2 linked regions of the Homo sapiens genome follow. The protein of the gene in region 1 interacts with the protein of each later gene in a biochemical or structural test. Each region holds a gene or a part of one and is shown in the gene's direction. Other genes may lie near its edges.

Region 1 (7,308 bases):
GAAGTTGATACAGGGTGTTGTGGGGATACATGGGAGGGGAATCAGAGGAGGTTTCCCGGAGGAGGTGACATCTAAGCTGAGGTCTGAAGGATGTGGAAGAGTTCAGTAACTCCTGAAGACCAAAAAAATGGTGATAAAAAAGACACCTTCCTAACTTTTTAGTGCTACGATCCAAGAGACAAACAAGCAGGTGAACGCATAACTACACTGGGCTCCACCATAAGCCAGAGCCTGTCTCTCCTAGGACTTTGGCATCACAATCTTCTCTGAAATTCTGTTTTCGGCATTGATTCTTGGGGGAGGTAGCAATATAGGAACTCAGTGTTCGTTGCGAAACTGATGGATGGTCTTCAGTCTTGGGTACGTTCCCATGTGTCAAACCTGTTTAAATGGCAGGACCCATCTCCCCTTCAGAAGCATTCACTTGTCCTACAGGATTCCCCATGGAATCTTGGAGTTTTTGAGGCGAGAGGGATCCTGGATACCACTGAGTTCTATCTTTCATCCAATAAACACAGAAGTGGACGCCTGGACAGGCAAAGTGACTTGACCAAGGCAGGTGCACAGCTATTCTGCAACATTGGGAACAAATCTCAGGTCTTTTGATTTTTTGTTTCCACTTTACTCTCTTTTCATTTCCCAGAAACAAAGTTTTCATGTGCTTTTTTTTATAGTGATATGTTTGGAATGCATTAGCTAGTAATTTAGGAAGGGAAAAAAATAAACACACAAGAGATAAACCTGTCAGGAGGACAAACCTGTATTGCTTCTGATTGGCTCAGAGGGTGATTATTATCATGGTAGAGAATTATTTAATCAGTGTAAGTAAAATTTCTCTGTGGGCTGGGCACTGTACAAAGACTCAAACGAATCTGTCTACAGATCTGAAAAGCAGATACGAGATCTGTGAATGGCTGGGGTTTCCAAGCCCACAGTACAAGCATGGGCCACACCTTACAGCTTGGAGGACTGAGCCCTGAAAATGGGCAAGTTCCTTCACTTCTCTGAACCTTATTTTTCCCACATTTAAAACAAGGATGAGTAGTTTCTGAGGTCCTTTTTACGACTTCTCTTCCTACAGACTCTAGCATCCTATAACTTGATACAAAGAGGGTGGATATGAACTCACCTTTCCTAGAAAAGTTCCAGGAAAGAGAATACCAGGTCATCCTAGTAGGTGTGTAGACAGGCCAGATAGATCTTGAAACTTACTCAGTTCTTCCCAGATGTATAACTCTATCATTGTTCTTAGCTGTCAAGAGAAAGCAGGAGAGCCTGCATCTTCATTCTTTTTTTTTTTTTTTTTTTTTTTGGAGACGGAGTCTCACTCCATCACCTAGGCTAGAGTGCAGTGGCATGATCTCAGCTCACTGCAAGCTCCGCCTCCCAGGTTCACGCCATTCTCCTGCCTCAGCCTCCCAAGTAACTGGGACTACAGGCGCCCACCACCACACCTGGCTAATTTTTTGTGTTGTTAGTACAGACGGGGTTTCACCATGTTAGCCAGGATGGTCTCGATCTCCTGACCTCGTGATCCGCCCACCTTGGCCTCTCAAAGTGCTGGGATTACAGGCGTGAGCCACCGCACCCAGCCTGCATCTTCATTCTTACTGTTAGCCTCAGGTTCACCCCACCTAGCTTATTAAGTGATGTTGAATAACCAATTCTTACATATTATTAGGCTCATGGACACCATGACATCCAGACTGATGGGTGCCTGCTGAAGGGGGTGACCCTAGCAGGAGGACTCCCCTACGCAAGGATTCATGGAGTTTGCTGTTTCTTTTCCTTAGGGTGAGAACCAAACTGCCTTCACACGGTGGGCAGAGGGGAACTGACTCAGGTTTGGAATAAGAGAGAACATCCCAACTGAAAAGCTCTTGGAATTCGCTGAACTTCAAGACACTGTGTGGACCAGCTTAGGATAGGGAGTGAGAAGAAATTAACCAAAAGGTAATTTCGTTACTTTTCAGCTGGAAAAAAGATCAGATTATACTTGTGCTTTCATAATTAAGTAGCTGCTGGAAAAAAACGCTTCAGATGCTTTCTATGAGAAAACTGCTGCTTGAAGTTCAGCAGAAGTTATCTACTTGATACTTATATTCCAGGCAAGGCCTTCCGTTGGAGAAAATATCGGCACTTTGGACAAAACTGAAATGTGAAAAGAAAGGGAAGAGAGGGCCTCTATCATGTAAGATGCTTATCCAAAGTGGATTTGGTCTGGAAAGTCTTCTAAAACCTTCCACATGACTGTGGAATAAGTCATGTGGGGCGCGGGGATAAGCGAATCTCTCAAATTCCACCACGTATGCCCTCATTCAACCTGGATCCTTAGAGTGGCCTCCAGGGCACTCTGCTCAGGACTCAGTCAGCTGTTGGCCACACCCATGCTCTCCAGTCTCCTGAGACCCTATTTGGTTCTGAGAGGGCTAAAAAGCAGTGTGGCTAAATATCCCAGGCCTCAAAGTATTCCTACTGTGGTTGGGGAAGCAATAGAATCATACCCCATAAAACAATGAAAACAGTGCTAGAAAAACATCGAGAGACAGAAACATCTCTACGAGTTAGGCCACAGTTAGAGTGAAGGCAGGGAAGGTTTTTAAAGCTGGGTGGAGGGGACAAGTCAAAAAGATGTGGAAACTGGTTTCCCTTTCCTATGGCTAAAGTGCTCAAAGGGGAAAAAGGAGTTTCAAAAATGTTCTTGGAAATACCATCTCTCACGAATTCTTCGGCCTCTGCTGTCCCAATGTCACTTGTCTGAGATGTAAACAGAGGAGTTCTGAGAAAGAAGCTGAACTTGCATTTCTCCCTGTTTCTATTTGTTCCAAACTTGTGGCATTTCTAACAGGATGAAGCGGAAGAGAAAGGGAAAGAGACAAAAGTGTAGAAAGATGGAAGATCCCAGCTGCAAATGGCCATTTGCAGTTAGATGGAACAGCTGCTGACGTTCAGGGAAATGCATGTCTCTCTTCAGATGGGAAGGAGCAGTGGAAAGGGGTGACGAGTTCCTGGCTGGCCACCAATCATCCCATCTTTCTGTGCCGGTTCCTCATCTGGAAAGTGGGAGTGATACTTGTGCTTGCTTTTCCTACCCACAAAGATTATTGTGAGAGCTATAATACGGTGAGATACAGAATCCTGCTTTTAAAAATACAAAGCAGAATCAAGATGTCAATAATAAGGATAGTAATTGTGTTAGTTATCTGCAATCATCTATTATAGCTAGTCGTCTAGGATCCTGGATCGTTCTCCTGGTTTTACTACAGTTTTGGATCAGCTCACCCCCAAATCCCTTGCTGAAGGGTGGAGCTCTGTCAGCCATGGGCAGGGAACCACTTCCTCTTGCCTTTCTACTTTCTGTCTTTCAAACATGCCCAGGGTCTTTGCACTTGCTGTTCCCCCTGCCTGGTACCTCTCTCCTGTGGCTTGCCCCAGAGCTGATCCTTGTCTTTGTCCACTTCTCAGCGAGGATGGCACTTCAGGGAGCCCTTCCCTTACTATCGCAGAGAGAGCAGGCCCTCCCCAGTCATGTCCAACCCAGAACTCTGTTTTGTTTTCTTCATAGCCCTAGCATCACAGAAAATCACCCTGTGCATTCATGGATGTCCACGGGGGCAAGGGCTTTGTGTTGCTTAACCCAGCATCCTGAACCGTGTTTGTTGAATGAATACAGAACCCCGTTTGCTCTGGGAGAGCACAGAAAACAGTCTTCTATCATATATCATAGCCAGCTGCAAACAGCAGATGGCTTCCCATATCCCAGAGAGTAAGAACCAGAGAGAGAGAGAAAGAGAGAGAGTTTGGGTCTTTCTCCTCTGTGCCTGCTCTCTCCAGAGAAACTGGAGGGGTAGCAGTTAGCATTCCCCCGCTGGTTCCACCAAGCACAGTCAAGGTCTCTAGGACATGGCCACCCCTCACCTGTGGAAGCGGTCCTGCTGGGGTGGGTGGGTGTTAGTTGGTTCTGGTTTGGGTCAGAGACACCCAGTGGCCCAGGTGGGCGTGGGGCCAGGGCGCAGACGAGAAGGGGCACGAGGGCTCCGCTCCGAGGACCCAGCGGCAAGCACCGGTCCCGGGCGCGCCCCAGCCCACCCACTCGCGTGCCCACGGCGGCATTATTCCCTATAAGGATCTGAACGATCCGGGGGCGGCCCCGCCCCGTTACCCCTTGCCCCCGGCCCCGCCCCCTTTTTGGAGGGCCGATGAGGTAATGCGGCTCTGCCATTGGTCTGAGGGGGCGGGCCCCAACAGCCCGAGGCGGGGTCCCCGGGGGCCCAGCGCTATATCACTCGGCCGCCCAGGCAGCGGCGCAGAGCGGGCAGCAGGCAGGCGGCGGGCGCTCAGACGGCTTCTCCTCCTCCTCTTGCTCCTCCAGCTCCTGCTCCTTCGCCGGGAGGCCGCCCGCCGAGTCCTGCGCCAGCGCCGAGGCAGCCTCGCTGCGCCCCATCCCGTCCCGCCGGGCACTCGGAGGGCAGCGCGCCGGAGGCCAAGGTTGCCCCGCACGGCCCGGCGGGCGAGCGAGCTCGGGCTGCAGCAGCCCCGCCGGCGGCGCGCACGGCAACTTTGGAGAGGCGAGCAGCAGCCCCGGCAGCGGCGGCAGCAGCGGCAATGACCCCTTGGCTCGGGCTCATCGTGCTCCTGGGCAGCTGGAGCCTGGGGGACTGGGGCGCCGAGGCGTGCACATGCTCGCCCAGCCACCCCCAGGACGCCTTCTGCAACTCCGACATCGGTAAGCGCTCCTGGTGCCCCGCCCGAGCCCCACGCTGCAGCCAGGACTGCAGCGCTGCTTAGGGAGGCAGGGCGAGCCCCACTCCTTTCCTCTGCCCCAGGAGAGGGGCAGACGGGGTTGGGGCGGAGTGGAGAAACTCGATGTCCTTGGGCGGGGGCGCTGGCATAGCTGAGAGGGGAAGATGCCCTGCAGAGGAAACTCACAGTGGCTGAGGGAGCCCCTGGCCGCCTTTGCTTTCCTAACTTAGGTCGTGAGGTTCCTACCGGTCCTTTTGACATCTGGAAAATGTCCCCATTCACTACTAACGGAGGAAGGGCTAGAAGAGAAGGGTGGGGAAAGGGTTCCCAAAACTTGGAATGCTAACTAAAGTGCTGGGAAATTGAATAGTTAAAAAAAAAAAAAAAAGTTGCCCGCCATGTGCACGGAAAGTTGCAGGAGAAACTTGGAGTACTCCGAGTCTGCATCATCTCCTGCGCCTATGAAATTCATTCTTTTCACTGAGACCCAACCCAGCTGCAGGCTTCCCAGGCAAGCGCTAACCGAGCTTCTGGGACTGCCAAGTTTGGGTGGATTTAAGGGGGAAAATGAGGAGAAAGCTGTGGCATTGACCCACGCCCTGGAGGCACTGTGTTTGAGAGTGTTGATAGCCAGCAGAAGGTGCGAGGGGTCACTCACCACATAGCTGTGAAAATTCACAGGAAGGCTATTTTTTTCCCCCTTGAATGTGTGTGGGGAGGGGGAGAATGGGTAGTGGAAAACAGATTTGTCACCAAAAGAACAAACCTGCCAAGGGTCACATCACGGTGACAGTTCCAGACTGGACTTAGTGTCTTGAGTAGAGAGACCCTGTAAAGAGACCTCCTACTCCTTAGTGTGTATGGAGGGCCCCGAGAGCATCCTGGGAGGCTTGTCTGGGAGTGTTTGGGACACTTGTGTTTGGATGGCTAAAGGTGGAGTGGCATCTGGGAAACATCTCTCTCCTCCTTTCCAGCCCATAAAGCGTGCAAGTCCAGTGGCTCTGCTGGGAGAGTGTGTGTGTGTGCACTGGGCTGGGCTGGGCGGTGGGGTGGGACAGCCTTGCCGCCCTCTGCCTGTGTCGATTCAGAGGTGAAGAATGGAGCGTGTGTGTTTTAAGTACAGTCATAAAGGAGAAGGAAATTTTCCACTGAGTCTTGGGTGAGGGACTCTACCAGCGTGTTGTGGTGAGGAGGGGGAGGAGGTAGGAGCTTGGCAGGGGAGGCAGTGAGGGCCGGGAGGGGCACTGCTGGTGGGCTGGGCTGAGCCTAGAGGTCAGAGTGGGGGTGTGGTGACCAGAATGTCAGTGCAGTTGGCAGCTGAGGGTGTTTGTGTGACCTGAGGTCACCCTTGTAAGAGGCTCCCTGGGGCCTGCATGGTACATCCTCCCCTCTCCTGGGGGAACCCAGCTGGCCCAGGATTTGTGGATTGCTTAGAAAGATCCTTTTGGGCAGCCTGAAGACTGGGGAGGGTTTTCCTCCCTCCTCCACCTCCACCCACATTCCACTTACCCTTTCCCTCCTCATCCCAGTTGGTAACATTCCCACCTGATTAGTGTGGGGAGTTGCTGCTGCAGCTGAGTTCTGGTTTTGCCCAGCAGGATCACACACGTGCGGCCAGGAGGCTGGCAGGTGGAATCAGGGTGTGCAGGGGTGCAGCCCAAGTCCTTTTCTGCTGGAAAATGGGCTGGGTGACTTCACTTGCGTTTTTTTGGTATGTAGTGGGAGTAGGTCCCCATTCTTCCCCCTTGCCCTTTGCTTTGGGGTTTCTACCCTAAAAATTGACCACGGAAAAGTGAAAACAAGCATGAGTAGATCCTGCTTCCAATGGGGGCCTTCCCGTCTGCTTACTGCTTAGGTTTCCTGCGGTGGGTCTGAGCAATGCAGAAAGTTTCTTACAATTTCTCTGGATTGAAACAAGAAATAGCTCCCTCGCTCCTCTTCATAAATTTCTCAGAGAAAATCTAAGTTACCAGGAAGTAGCCAAAGACCAGGAGATTGTGGAATCAAAAAGAAAAAAAGAAACAAAAAATCTTCGATGCTCTGGCACGGATCCCAAATTGTTCTGCCTGGGTTTGGTGAGCTGCACTAGTGGCAGGGATGAGCTAATGCTTTTAAAATGGGAGGTGTGGGTGTGAGCTGCTTGCCTGCCGACCTCCCTCGCCTTGCACAGCACCCTGCTGGCGTCCAGTACTTGGCTCCCAAGTTTCATTGCTCAGAGCCTTTCTGGTTTCCAGTCTGGGTTGAAACTGTCTATTCTCGCCCTCAAACAAATATGAAGGAGCTCCCCATTCCTTGGGACCCACACAACCCCACCAGTCAACTTTGTAGCCCCCTAAAGGTGTTCACATCAGCCCATCAACTTCCTGTTTTAAAACCATCATGGTGGTTTTCTCTTCATGGCTTGGTGCCATGTTGGCCTAGCAAAAGGCACAGGAGGCCTGGCCTGGTCCTCTCCGGGGGGCTGCCCGATGGCCTTTCCTCCTGTCTCTGCTCATCCACAGGTGTCTCTTTTTGTCTTTTTTCCCCAAAGTCCTAGGGCCTGGCATGGCATTCTGGGGGAGGAGG
Region 2 (7,000 bases), on another chromosome or scaffold:
TTCTCAGGTGACGCAGATGCTGCTGGTCAGGAGACTGCACTTTGAGAACCAGTGGCTTATACCAATCAGTATCTACCCCTAGAATGGGGGTAGGGGACACAGGGTCAGAGGAGGTGAAGGCTGGATCATAAATGTGGAGTTTTGTGAAGAAGGATGGTGGGGAAATAGATAATTAATGCTAGGTAGACCATCCAGAGTGCATGCTGTCTTAAAAGATTGTGGGGATTAAATTACAAGGCACATAAATAAAGCACATGGCATTTAGTAGGACCCTCAATAAATGATAACTCTTACTCTTGACAAAGTACACAAATTCATTTCATTTTAATTCAGGAAATACTTGAGTGTCATCAGCTCCTGCCCCAATTGGCCTCTAATCAAATAGGAGAGTTAAGACAAACAGACACTACTGTTCCAGGCACTCAGAGTTGATGATTTTGAGAGGCTTAGAGAGGGAAAACACAATATGGATGGAGGTAGTCAGGGAAGGCTTCCTGGAGGAGGTAGAGGGAGAGAACAGGGTAGGAGGATGTTTCTCAGCTCCAGCAGATTGCAGACAGGAACTCTGCCCGTTCTCCAGTCCTTCTCCAACCTTCCTTTGATCCTGCCTCCCACTCCCATCATGGAATCATCTCTGGGATGTTTCTGGGTGGGTTTGGGGGTGTGTGTGGTTCGAGCTGCAGGGTGACTGAAGATGTGGTTTCCTGTGCCCCCTTGCCTCCTGCCAGGTTCATTTGGCGGACTGTGACGCCACGTGACAAGCCCATGGGGCCCCTGCTGGTGGCCACATTCTGGCCTGAGCTCCCGGAAAAGATTGATGCGGTATACGAGGCCCCACAGGAGGAGAAGGCTGTGTTCTTTGCAGGTGTGTGGGAAGCACCCTTCCTTGGCCCTCAGCTCCACAGGGCTCTGCACCAGGGCTCCTGGGTGTCCCAGGCTCACTCCCCCTCTCAAACCACAGTTCCTATGCACCCGTGGGTGCTCCCTTTCCTTTATGGATTCATTCTTTCAACATTATTTCCTGAAGTGCGCAGCTCCTCTGGGAGATTGGTTCCGACACCCAACATCAGATAGCATTAACCCTCAGTGTACACATTTCATTTTCTTAATTCTTTTCAATCCGTCTCATTTCTTTTCTAGAAGAAAAAAAGTCTCAGTTTAGTGCTGGTGTGTCCCTAACGCCTTTGTAGTGATACAGTCTTTGGCAGGTAACAGTTTTAGTTCGAATGTTTTAAAGAATATTTGTTTTCATTTTTACTTTTAGACATAAATTGGTTTTAACAGAGGCAGTTAGTTATAATAGTGTGGAGTTTCAAATCAGGACAGAAACGGATTATTCAGTAACTGATATTTTGACAGTCAAAAAACATTTTTTAATAAATTTATTTTTAAAGATTTCAAAATGAATTCACTGAAAGCAGAATGTTAAGTAAATAATAGTACAGGGAGCCCCTAGAAGTGGTAGAAATCATCAAGGTGAGGTCTGTATGGCTAAGGTTTACTCATTTAACATTTATTGGAGCATTTCCATGCGCTGGGCTTTGCCATACCCTGGGGATACAAGCTCTGCCTTCGCGATGCTCACAAACCACTCAGGGAGACAGACAGCTGGGCTCTTATGAGGGGTAAAGAAGGATTTAGGAGGTCCCTGTCCTGGTCTGAGGTGGGATCCTAGAGAAGATAAAGGCTCAGCCAAGACTATTGTCTCCACCACCTGGCTCCCACCTCCCCCAATCCACCGTAATCATGGGTCCCGGAGAGGACAACTGCTGGCTCCTAGGGCACCTTTTTGCAAATTAGCAAAAGGTGCCTCTTTATGACAGCAAGGCCCTTAGAGTGCACGACTTGGTGAGCAGAGTGTGAGCTGGATTTATCCCCCAACTCATGTCCTTGACCAGGCACCTTCTGTAATTGACTTCTAAAGCCCTCTGTGTGAGCCCTGATTCTGGGCACTGCAACCAGGAGTGAGCAGGAAGTTGCACTCTGTTGGGAATGGCTGCAGTGGGGCCCGTGGACAGACAGATGATGGGAGGAACAGGCTGGCCTAGGGCATGTCAGCACCAGCCAACACACCCTTTGCTTCCACCCCAGGGAATGAATACTGGATCTACTCAGCCAGCACCCTGGAGCGAGGGTACCCCAAGCCACTGACCAGCCTGGGACTGCCCCCTGATGTCCAGCGAGTGGATGCCGCCTTTAACTGGAGCAAAAACAAGAAGACATACATCTTTGCTGGAGACAAATTCTGGAGGTAAGGGAGGGCGGTGGGTAGGACAGCAGCACAGTTGGCTGCGAGAGACAGAGAAGCCGCCCTGAGGCTTCAAGCCTCCTGGGCTGAGTTCAGAGGTTGGTGGGCTCTGGATGCCCTCTCTCTGGTATCTAACCTCTTTGGTCTCTGGCACCTCTGAGATGTTGCCAAAGGTGAACCATTCTTGTACACATTGCTGATATAATTCTGGTGGAATATCCTTTCTCTTTGCAGAATTCTTTTGATTGGCCCATGTCTGGTCTGGACCCTCACATTTTGAAATGACTCACTGAAGAAGGGGGTAATAAAAATAAAGATAATAACTGCTCCTATTGACACTATGTGTCAGAGACTGTCCCAAGGGTTCTATGGGATAGGAATTATTATTCCTCCCATTTTACAGATGAGGAAACCTGGGTTCAGAAAGGTTAGGTAACCGTGGCTGGGCACAGTGGCTCACGCCTGTAATCCCAGCACTTTGGGAGGCCAAGATGGGTGGATCACTTGAGCTCAGGAGTTCCAGATCAGCCTGGCCACATGGTGAAACCCCATCTCTACTAAAAATGCAAAAAAATTAGCTGGACATGGTGGTGCATGCCTGCAATCCCAGCTACTAGGGAGACTGAGGCAGGGGAATCACTTAAACCTGGAAGACAGAAGTTGCAGTGAGCTGAGATCATGCCACTGCACTCCAGCCTGGGCAACAGAGTGAGACTCCAACTCAAAAAAAAAAAAAAGAAAAAAGAAAGGTTAAGTAACCAGCTTGGAGTCACATAGCCAGGTAGGGACAGGTTGGGATTTGAACCCTGGCATTCTGTCTCCTGGGAAAACATGTTAGTCTTCACTCTTCACTACTATTCTATACCCGAGATGGTGGAATGGGGGTTCCAAGAGATGGGGGAACATGAAGGCAGTGGACAAAATATGAAGAAGACTTAGAGATGGGTGCACCAGTCATCCATAGAAGCCAGCATCCAAATCAGACCCCATGGAAGGAGCAGGTGCCCTGTGTCATGCTCACAGCAGGCCCGTGGCTGTGGGTGCAGGTTGGCAGGGGAACAATTTGGAAGCAGATGGTTCTGTGCTCCAGGTTATCTACAGGAAAGGGTCCAGTTCTGAGGGGCTATAGTCATGACCAGGGAACCTAATATCCAGGAGTGGCTGGTGAGAGGTAGCCCAAACCTCAGGAGTTTGACTGTAATTCTTCACACTTTCTAGAAAAGGAAACGGAGGTCCAAAGAAATTAAATAACTTGTTCAAGCTATAGAGATATGTGTATTTGCACAAAGCCAGGATTATAGCTACTTCTCTTGTATTCTAACTGAGTACCCCCTCCACTATACCTGCCAGTCCATTTGATTAGTGAGGAAAGAGTGGTCGGGGCACAAAGACTTGTGGTGTGTCTTTCCATCCCCTCCCTCCTGGTATCCCCACATTCCTTCCATGGCTGCCACTGCATCTGGGCCCTACCCAAGAATTTTAGAGGGCACTTCCTGAGGCCTTTGTCTGCCATCCCCAAAACAATCCCGCTTACTTCCTAAGGCCTCTGTCTTCTCCCCCTTCCCTCCTCCCCACTACTCTGCCCCCCAGCTGCCCTGCATTCAGAAACTCTTTATATCCCAGGCCTGCCCATGTCAGGGTGGAATTCCAGACATATTGCTAAGACACTTAGCAACCTAAGCTGATTGATATCTCAAGCCTCAAGAAAGAAAACAGTCAGGCAGGAAACCACAGAGCAGGCTTTCCACCCACCAGCTCCAGACACTAGCCCCAGACAGTGTGCACGCACACGCACACACACACACGCGTACTGCGAATGGCATCTCAGCATTGTAGGAGCCCTGAATCTCCAAGTCTTAGAATTGTGGCTGGTGAGCCGCACAGACTCACAGAAACGTGAATCTTAGAATCCTAAAGCCCTGAAGTTTTCAAATTATGGTGTTGGAAGAACTTTTTAAATCACTTTTCCATGCACTGTATCTATGTAAACATGCAAAAACAGACCTGTTCCTAGCATATAGGAACATGATTGTGTGCGCATGTGCGCATACACACACACACACACACACACACACACACACACACACACACACAGGCATGGAGGTTGTGGCAGTGCCTTGCTGGATTTCCAGGCAGAGTTATTTGCCTCCCAGTCCTTTTCCACACAAGCCCACCTCCCAAAGCCAGAGCCAGGACAGACAGCGTGCTCTACAGAGGAACCACCCTGAGACTTCCTGAAAAGGGACAGAGCTGAAGGGCCTATCAGAAGCTCTGGGCTGGCTTCCAAAGGAGACAGATCTCTATTCCAAGAGAAGTGGTGAATGAGCTTGTGACACTGGCCCTGCCGTGGAGTCTGCAGAGGCCCCAGAGGCATCTTTGCTGGAGAAGGAGAGAGAGCCCCAGAGTGACAGAGGCTGAGCAGCTGTCTTCAGCATGCCAAGAAGAGCTCAGGCCCTGCTTGTAGAAGCTTTCACTAAGCCACAAATATATGTTCCACATCTGCTGTGTGCCAGGCACTTAGCTAGCTGCTGGAGAGACGGGGGTCAAAAAATCATCACACCCTGCCCTCATGTAGTTTATAGTAGAATGAGGGAAAATTATGTAAACACATTTGAATCAGATAATGATGGCTCTCAGTATGGGGCCTCTACCATAGCCCAGCCTGAGGCTATGCAGGTCACCTATATTTCTCAGTTGAGGTAGATACTGTTAGCTCCTTTTCCCAAGTGTGGAAACTGAGGCTAAAGTGGCTCAAGGAAAAGCTGGGACACAAATATCTGTGTTCTTAACACCTGCTATACATGGCAACTTCTACAGCTGCAGAGAAGTACCACATCTTCTGACACCACAGTGCTTGTATTCTTTCTGGATGAAAAGAACTTGGAAGCAAACTAATTCTCTTATCTGAGACTCAGTTTCCTCATCTGTAAAATGGGCTTGACTTCTGCCATCCCCACCTTCTGTGGGTAGAATGAGAAAGAAATGAGGGCCAGTTCAAGTGTGGGACACACATCTCCAAACTATCCTAACGCTAGGGAATGTAGTTTGAGGGCTCAGTGGAGGTGCCTTGGATGGGAGTGTTGGGATTTTGAGCTAGGGAACTTGGTTTTGGTGACCCAGGGCATGAGGAAGCATGCCAGGTTTTGTAAGAATGAGTTTTATGCTGCACCTGGGATTAAGGAAGGCGTTAGTTCTTCGGGGTGATGGCTGAGGGAGAAGTCCCTTTGAGGGAGAAGTCTCCTCTAGAAGGGAGCATATAGGGAAAGCTGCTGTTGGGGTCCAGGGTGGAGGTGGTCAAGGCTGGCTGCAGAAAGGAAGGGAGCCCCCTAGGAGGCACTGTGGAGCAAAAGGTGGCTGCTACCAGGATGGGATGCGAACACAGATTCATCTAGAAACAGCTCCACTTGGGCAAGACTTGTTTACTAGGATATCCATAGCTCCCATAGTGGGAGCTCAGTAAATATTTATGGAATAATGAAGTGGAGAGGCAAAGGAATCAACATGACAGCAGCATTTAAAAAGTTCTCCAAAAATCTTAAAAGACAGAAGGATTGCTAGCCAGGGAGAAGAACATACTAACCGATGCCCAAAGTATTTACCTGAATTAAAGGCGGGGCCCAGGATTGCTGCCGCCGGAACTGAGGTGGCATGTGGCCCACCCTGTGACTAACAGGCCTTGGACTTACACGTACCTTCCACCTTGCATTGTAACCTCACTGCCCCAGCCATGGTCATCTCCCAGGGCAGGGACTGTCATCTCCCTGTGGCAGATGAAGAAGCAGCAATTTTTCCAAGCCATGAAGTGAAAGAATGATGGGGCAGATTCCCATCCCTGGGCTTCTAGTTTAGCACTCCTCGGATTACAGCAGGGATTTGTTTGTAAGGGAGCTAACATTTCTTAAGTACCTACTAAATATTTATGAGACATGGGGATAGAGGCTCTGCATGTGCTGTTTTATTTAATGCATGCATTAAATTAAATACACTAAATTAGACACAACCCCATTTTACAGCTGGTAAAACTGTAGCTGTATGGAAAGTGGTTAACACACTGTTTGGCATGTAGTAAGTGCTTTATAAATGTTAGCAGTAATCATGAGATTGTTTTTATGGGGTCATCCAAAGTCATATAATTAAAAGTGGTAGATCTGAGGCTCAGACTCAGGTCTGATTCCATGCCCTTCCTTCCACTGCAGCTGGCTGCTTCCCTGAAGGGCTAGGTCCAGTTTCCGAGGCCTATCCAGGAGCCATCAGCTGGGTGCTCCCATCCAGGCCAGGGGGGAAGTGTCCTTTAGAGAGGCCCTGCTGGTTCACTGTGTCTGTTTCTTTACAGATACAATGAGGTGAAGAAGAAAATGGATCCTGGCTTCCCCAAGCTCATCGCAGATGCCTGGAATGCCATCCCCGATAACCTGGATGCCGTCGTGGACCTGCAGGGCGGCGGTGAGCCACCCAGGACTGTCTCCGCTTTCTAGGACTCCCCGCCCCTAGCCAGGGCCCAGCTCCTTGCAAATACACACTTCTTTATTGTGCAGGGCAGGCAGGCAGGCGGCGCCCAGGAAAACAAATCAACTCCTTCATCCTAGTGCTGGGAAGGTTTCCAGATCCCTGACCTCTGCTCCTTGGCCTGGCTCCAGGCAGTAAGACCCAGAAAGACTTCTCACAGCTGCAGGGCCTGGAGCCAGGGCAGGGGAGGGCGGAAGGCCTGGGCCAGGGGAGAAGGAACATGGGCTCTGTGCCGTGGATTCATTC

What was found. Proteins that work in one complex are often made in the same cells at the same time.
Region 2: the proteins of TIMP3 (region 1) and MMP2 form a complex in vitro, tested with the Homo sapiens proteins (one study listed by BioGRID).

The regions. Positions count from the first base shown.
Region 1 is NC_000022.11:32,797,397-32,804,704, forward strand, and holds the start of TIMP3 (metalloproteinase inhibitor 3 precursor), read left to right. Parts: upstream 1-4,308; 5' UTR 4,309-4,605; coding exon 4,606-4,726; intron 4,727-7,308.
Region 2 is NC_000016.10:55,496,198-55,503,197, forward strand, and holds part of MMP2 (72 kDa type IV collagenase isoform 1 preproprotein), read left to right. Parts: intron 1-728; coding exon 729-865; intron 866-2,091; coding exon 2,092-2,251; intron 2,252-6,581; coding exon 6,582-6,691; intron 6,692-7,000.